Regions from separate parts of the Homo sapiens genome. Here region 1 is linked to region 2. The links come from fine-mapping of genetic effects on gene expression. A gene starts in region 2. The other region holds a variant in brackets. All regions are shown on one strand. Distances are from middle to middle.

Region 1 (2,816 bases), 140 kb before region 2:
TTCTAAATTATGGTACATGAGAGAAGAACACAAATTACCCAAAGTTACATCTGTATAGTCTTGAAATGTATTAAATGATTCAGTGTAATTATCAAGTAACTTTATAATGATATTGTCCCTAAGATAATATTAAGGCTACTTTGGATATCCATAGTATAAACCTCTGAAAACATGTAGAAGCATCCTGAGTTGCAGGGATAGTCAGTCTAGGATTTAAAAATCAAACTACAGAAAGTCCACAAAATGGATAACATATACGTTCAATAGCCATCTCATTCATGTGTTTCCCCAAAAGGAAATTATAGGACGTATTCCACACCAAGCCACAGAAATATTTTCTTAAAATTCTTTGTCCAGAAATTATTAAAACCCTGGAATAAGGGTTAGGTGGAATCCTTCAATATAACACTTTCAAGGAGAAGTGAGGGGAGGTGTGGGGAAAGGAAGGAAAGAGAGAGAGAGAGAAAAAAAACAGCATTTTACCAGCTAGAATAAATAATAACTCGTCTACCCACTTGGACTCAGGAACCCTGGACATAAGCTTCTGAGGAACCGATCAAAAACTCTACTGAAGTACAACATCTGACAGCCACGGGAACTCAGCCACTGCATGGTTTTCCTCATCCCATTATGTACAGAGCTTTCTAGCAATGCTGAGCATTTCCAAGCAAATAAATAAACACAAAAGACTACATTTCAAAAACAGCTGCCTAAATTGGAGTCATAAAACACATGCACACTGAATGTGGGTACATGCCCACACAAGCTGGACTTGTAAAGACTGCAGCAAAAGAATGAAAAACAGAAGAAGAAACCTGGGAGTGACACTTTGAAGCAGATTTAAGGAGCATGCTGCGTAAAATATACACTACAGAGTCATCTCATCCATGCAGAAAACTGCACATACAGCCAACACGGTACTGGAGGAAGCTCCCATTCATGTTTTCTTTACTCCAAGACAACACAAGCCAGATGCCAATATCCAAATATTCTTCACGTACAAATTAAGCATTAAATGAATGGTAAAAGTGCTTATTCTGGTATAATAAAAATCGTGTTGTTTTTATTTGAATGGCTGATATAAACAAAACACTTTATTTAATGCCATTAAAGGTTTCAGAGCTAACATTTTCCTAAAACTAAATGCAGCATTTTCAATTGTCCTATGAAGTTATGTTGAACTGTTTATATTATTAAATCGGTATGCCCTCTTCTCATAAAAAATGTTACAGAAGTAACACCCAACTGAATCAGGAACAAGGCATAGTATGAGAAATAAACATAGAACATAATATAAGGACAATATAATAATTTGAAGCCTGAAAGCATCTACATTACTTAATTATTAAA[C/A]AAGAATGGGTAGTCTATGCCAGTTGATTAAGTAAAGGTATTTCTAATTTCTAGGAGCTACTCATTGTTAATTTTATCAATGAAAATGATGCTGTAAAATTTTTCTAACAAGCACTTCCATTGCCATTACTATTTCAGAGTTACAATGTTATTCCTTGTGATGAATGCACCATACTCCCAATGTTGTTAACCATCCTCCTTTGTCTATTAATTTGTTTATAAAAACATTCACTCATAACAATTATTCAGCCCAGCTGTGCTATGTGCTAAGGCTTCTGAGACAAGTAACACAGCTTCAAGGAGCCTACAGCTTAGAATGGGAAAGAAACCAGTAAGGAATGATTATAAAATCAGGCAAAATGTGTGGTAATAGAGGTAAGGTTATTCAAAACTTGGATGTCAAACTGCTTTCACAGACATAAGTTTATACACAAATCATGGAGTAGGGAGGGAAATGATTATAACCCCAAAATTCAGAGCATGGACTCCAAGATTAAATCTGTCATCTATGATGATATATAGTTGATTAGGAGAAGAGTCTCCGCTAGAGCCCTACATTTTTCACTACACTATGCTGAATTTCCCAGCTCATGAAGATTTTGACAAAAAGTCATCATCATATATCATATATACAACTAGTTATTGAATTCATGTGCTTCCTAGATCCGTATTCGGGACTCCAGTGTAGAAGCTAGTGCAATAACCTGTATGTACTGATCCTGTGAAATTTTAATGACTTTCTGTTCTTTCTTTCTCATTTCTCAACTCTCTCTCTTAACCTTTCCTGTCATCCCTTTCTAGTTGAAAGGACTTCAGTCATTAGTAGTCTATGACTGAAAAACAGTGAGGGCAGCCTTAAAGCAAGCATCATTAAACTTTAACTTAAAAACAAGGCCAAGAGCAGACCACACAATCTATGTAAGCATGTGCAGAAAAGATGTGGCCACCAAGCTATTGAATACTAACTCTATGCTACCCTGGGAACCTTCTCACAAACATTCCTACAGTTTCACTTCCAGAGGCTACTACCCACATGCTGCCGGTGGGTGGGGGATATGCAAGTGCATTCAGATATACTTAATCTGCAAAAGCACAAACACTGTCTTAATTATAATCTAATAATTCTAATAAACTCATGGTTAAATTCATGGCCAAATAATGCCCTTACTTTTTTCAGCAATGCTCTACTTGATTGAAAATCTTTGTTTTAGAATTTTACTTTTGAAATCTGTCAGAATAGCACATTCTTTTCAAATATCCTCAATAATGACATAACCTTTAAATATAGGTGTGGTTTTGGGGGTAAAAATGATTTTTATTAGAGGCAATGCCTTGTTTTCACTGATGATATCATCATAAGAGCTTCTCAGAGGAGGTCATTATTTATAAGGACAAATAAATAATTGTTTATATTTGATAACCTAATATTCTCTGACAGTCTTGATAATTCCACGAGTTTAGAGTTA
Region 2 (2,816 bases):
CTAAGATCCAGAGGATAAAAGGAGGAAGGAAAATTTGATCAAGAGGTGTATGGGAAAGGAGGTGGAAGAAGCCCTATATTATAGACTATAACAGTCTTTATATTCTACAGATCATCAAAAGTTCTGATTGGCCTTTAACCCCTTAACTTTCATCCCAATGACACACCCAACACCCACACAATGCAAACCAAAACTAAGACGCACAGAAAACTTGCAGAGTTAAAATGCACTGGTGCCTTGCTGTCTTCCATTATCTTACAAAATGGCAAAACTGCAAATGTATGCTTTTTAAAAAGCCAACTCAATGACTGTGTCCAATGAAGAGCCACTGACGTATGAGAGACATTAATAATTTTCTTTCAATATCACTAAACTAGCCTAATTTTATCTTTAAGACAAACTCTTGATTCCCCCCTTAAGGGCTTTTTTAGTTCAAACTATTAATAGACACAATAAATTAAAAAAAAAAAATTAAAGTCCCCAACATCTTCCTAGGAGCATTACACAACGAGATGACTTTGAACGACTTTCCTCAGGATATATTCCAGTGCCCTGTAGAGAACTTTCCCCATCCCTGTAGACATGTGAGTAAGTAAAGAACACCTCAAGAACAAACTTTGTTGGCCACCAGCAGGGGAGCTCTTCAGCTTTTGTCCCCAAATCCATTCAAACAAAAGAAGCTCCGACTCCTCCAACCCACCCTTCGGACCCGCACCCCGCGGGGACTCTCCAGATGCGGGTGTCCACTCCCCCGCCAGCCCTACTTACTCCTCAACGCCCCAATGAGCAGAGAGCCGTCCTTAATGAGCTCCTTGATGAACTTGTTGGTTCGCTCCAGCTCAATCTCGTGACACTGCAAGCGCTCCCTGAAATCTGGGCTGTCCAAGTAGGAATCGCTGAACTCCAGAGTGGGCAGCCCCATGGCACAGGCGCTGCCAGCGGCGGCCGCGGACACGTCCGGGCCGGAGGTCAGGGCGGGGGCAGCCGGCGGCCGCGGCGGGCGCTGGGGTCGCGCGATCGCGGGGAAGGCGCCGGGACGCGAGGGGACTGATTGCGCGGAGGAAACGGGCCCCGAGCGCCGCGCCGCCTGCGCCGGGCTCAGTCTTCCTCCCCCGAGGCTAGGCGAGCGCAGGCGCGGGCGGCGGGCCGAGGCGCGAGTCCCCTCAGGTTGTTGTCATCTGGACGCATCGTCGTTCGGAACGCGGGGGCGGCGAGGCTCCGGGCCGCGGCCGGAGCAGGAAAGTTTCTCTCACGGCGCGCAGACACTTCCGGCAGTTCCACTCCCCAACTCTCTTGACAGTCGTCGGCGTTGTGAGCCAGAAGCAGCGCACAGCCGCAACTCCGGCCGGGCTGGGGAAACCCTCCCCCTCGGCGGACGCAGGCTCAGAGCGCTTGCAAATCGCACCCGGGCTCCCAGACCCTCCTCCCCGCCGCCGCGCTCCCACCCAGCGCCACCCCGCCCCTTCGCCCCTTTGCCCTCCTGCCCCACCCGTCCGCCCGCACTGGGCTCCAGGGCTCCCCGCGCTGCAGCCCCGCGCTTGCGCTCCGGCCTTGGCTGGGGTGTTAGCCCTGTCCCCTCTTGGGCCCCTGGTTTCGGCTAGCCCTTGGTGACACTTCGGGGTCCCTCGCTCCACAAAAGGATCTGACTCCCAATATACCTCCCCTAACAGTGTCCCCTCCACCCACTCCCTACAATTCTCTGGGAGAAAAACCAACGTTAAGTTTCCCTAAAGTCTGAGTATTTTGAAGCGTAGATGGAAGATACTACTGTCTAGCGTTCGTTTAGATTTTACTTCACACTTCCCCACCGAATGCATTTGAATTCCACGTTGAAAAATTGTCCCGTCGCTCTCCCACCCCTCAGCTTCAATGATCCAGCCTGGAGGTGTTTCTTCCCCCTGCCCCCACTCCATAGCTGGGAAGGTGGGACGATTTTTCAAGTCATCCTCACTCTGCTTACGTGCTCCTACTTCTAGTAGAATACCTATTTGCATCACAATAGTAGTATCTCCTATTGGCACCTGGATGGAATTGTCCTAGGAGCGGGAAAATTTTCAAATTGTTGAAGTGGACTGGAGTTTGAAATAAATAGTTAACTCCTACCCACAGGCTTTATCCTTCCTCCGGTGGAGGTTCACCTAATAAATTTCTGTTCTCTTAAAACCTTGACAGCAAAAGAAACGACTGCTTTACATCTCGTCCTGACATCATCTATAGGATTTCTGAGAACTCGGATATTGTTCTTAAGGATCTGCTTTTAATTTCTGCATTTTCATTGCTTTGTCCATATGAACCATCTGTTTAAAAACTATTCTACAGATCATGGGAAAAATTCCACTAAAGTGCTTTACATTTTTCCCAATTAAGTTTCAGAGCCAGTCAAGATTCTTGGTTTCAATTTTTTAAATGTACAGGAACATTAAAAATAACATGTAAACCTAAAACAGATAAGATAATGTAAACAGTATGGGCCAGGCGCAGTGACTTAACGCCTGTAATACCAGCATTCTGGGAGGCTGATGCAGGAGAATCACTTGAGGTCAGGAGTTGGAGACCATACTGGCCAACACGGTGAAACCCAGTTTCTACTAAAAAATACAAAAATTAGCTGGGCCTGGTGGCGCACGCCTGTAGTCCCAGCTACTTGGGAGGCTGAGGCAGGAGAGTCACTGGAATCCGGGAGGCGGCGATTGCCATGAGCCGAGATTACGAGATTACTCCACCGCACTCCAGCCTGAGTGACAGAACGACTCCATCTCAAAACACCTTCCATCCATATTCACATCTTTGGCCCCATATTGGCAAAATGACCAGTC

Direction of the effects. Positions count from the first base shown, and alleles are read on the strand shown. Sizes are in standard deviations (SD) of each study's normalised expression.
In carriers of allele C in region 1, the expression in iPS cells of the gene that starts at base 1,313 in region 2 tends to be lower than with A alone (moderate effect, 0.48 SD a copy in HipSci).

Evidence for each region. PIP is the estimated chance that this variant, and not a neighbour inherited with it, causes the effect. A credible set is the group of variants that fine-mapping cannot tell apart.
Region 1: its variant is the best candidate, but not a certain one, in a credible set for the expression of ARHGAP42 in iPS cells (HipSci, PIP 0.87).

Annotation. Positions count from the first base shown.
Region 1 is chr11:100,823,722-100,826,537 of GRCh38, reverse strand. The region is part of intron 3 of ARHGAP42 (Rho GTPase activating protein 42); the gene reads right to left. Among named protein-coding and RNA genes, the nearest start is that of SNORD13I, 110 kb to the left of the region's middle. The variant C/A (reference allele first, on the strand shown) is at 1,351.
Region 2 is chr11:100,685,785-100,688,600 of GRCh38, reverse strand. ARHGAP42 (Rho GTPase activating protein 42) reads right to left here and starts at 1,313. Exons shown (of 24, transcript NM_152432.4): 1 at 769-1,313. The coding sequence starts at 922. It overlaps ARHGAP42-AS1 (ARHGAP42 antisense RNA 1), which reads left to right and starts at 646. Exons shown (of 2, transcript NR_133571.1): 1 at 646-968. RefSeq lists enhancers at 549-918, 1,239-1,288, 1,002-1,712 and silencers at 939-1,108, 1,409-1,598, 1,649-1,943.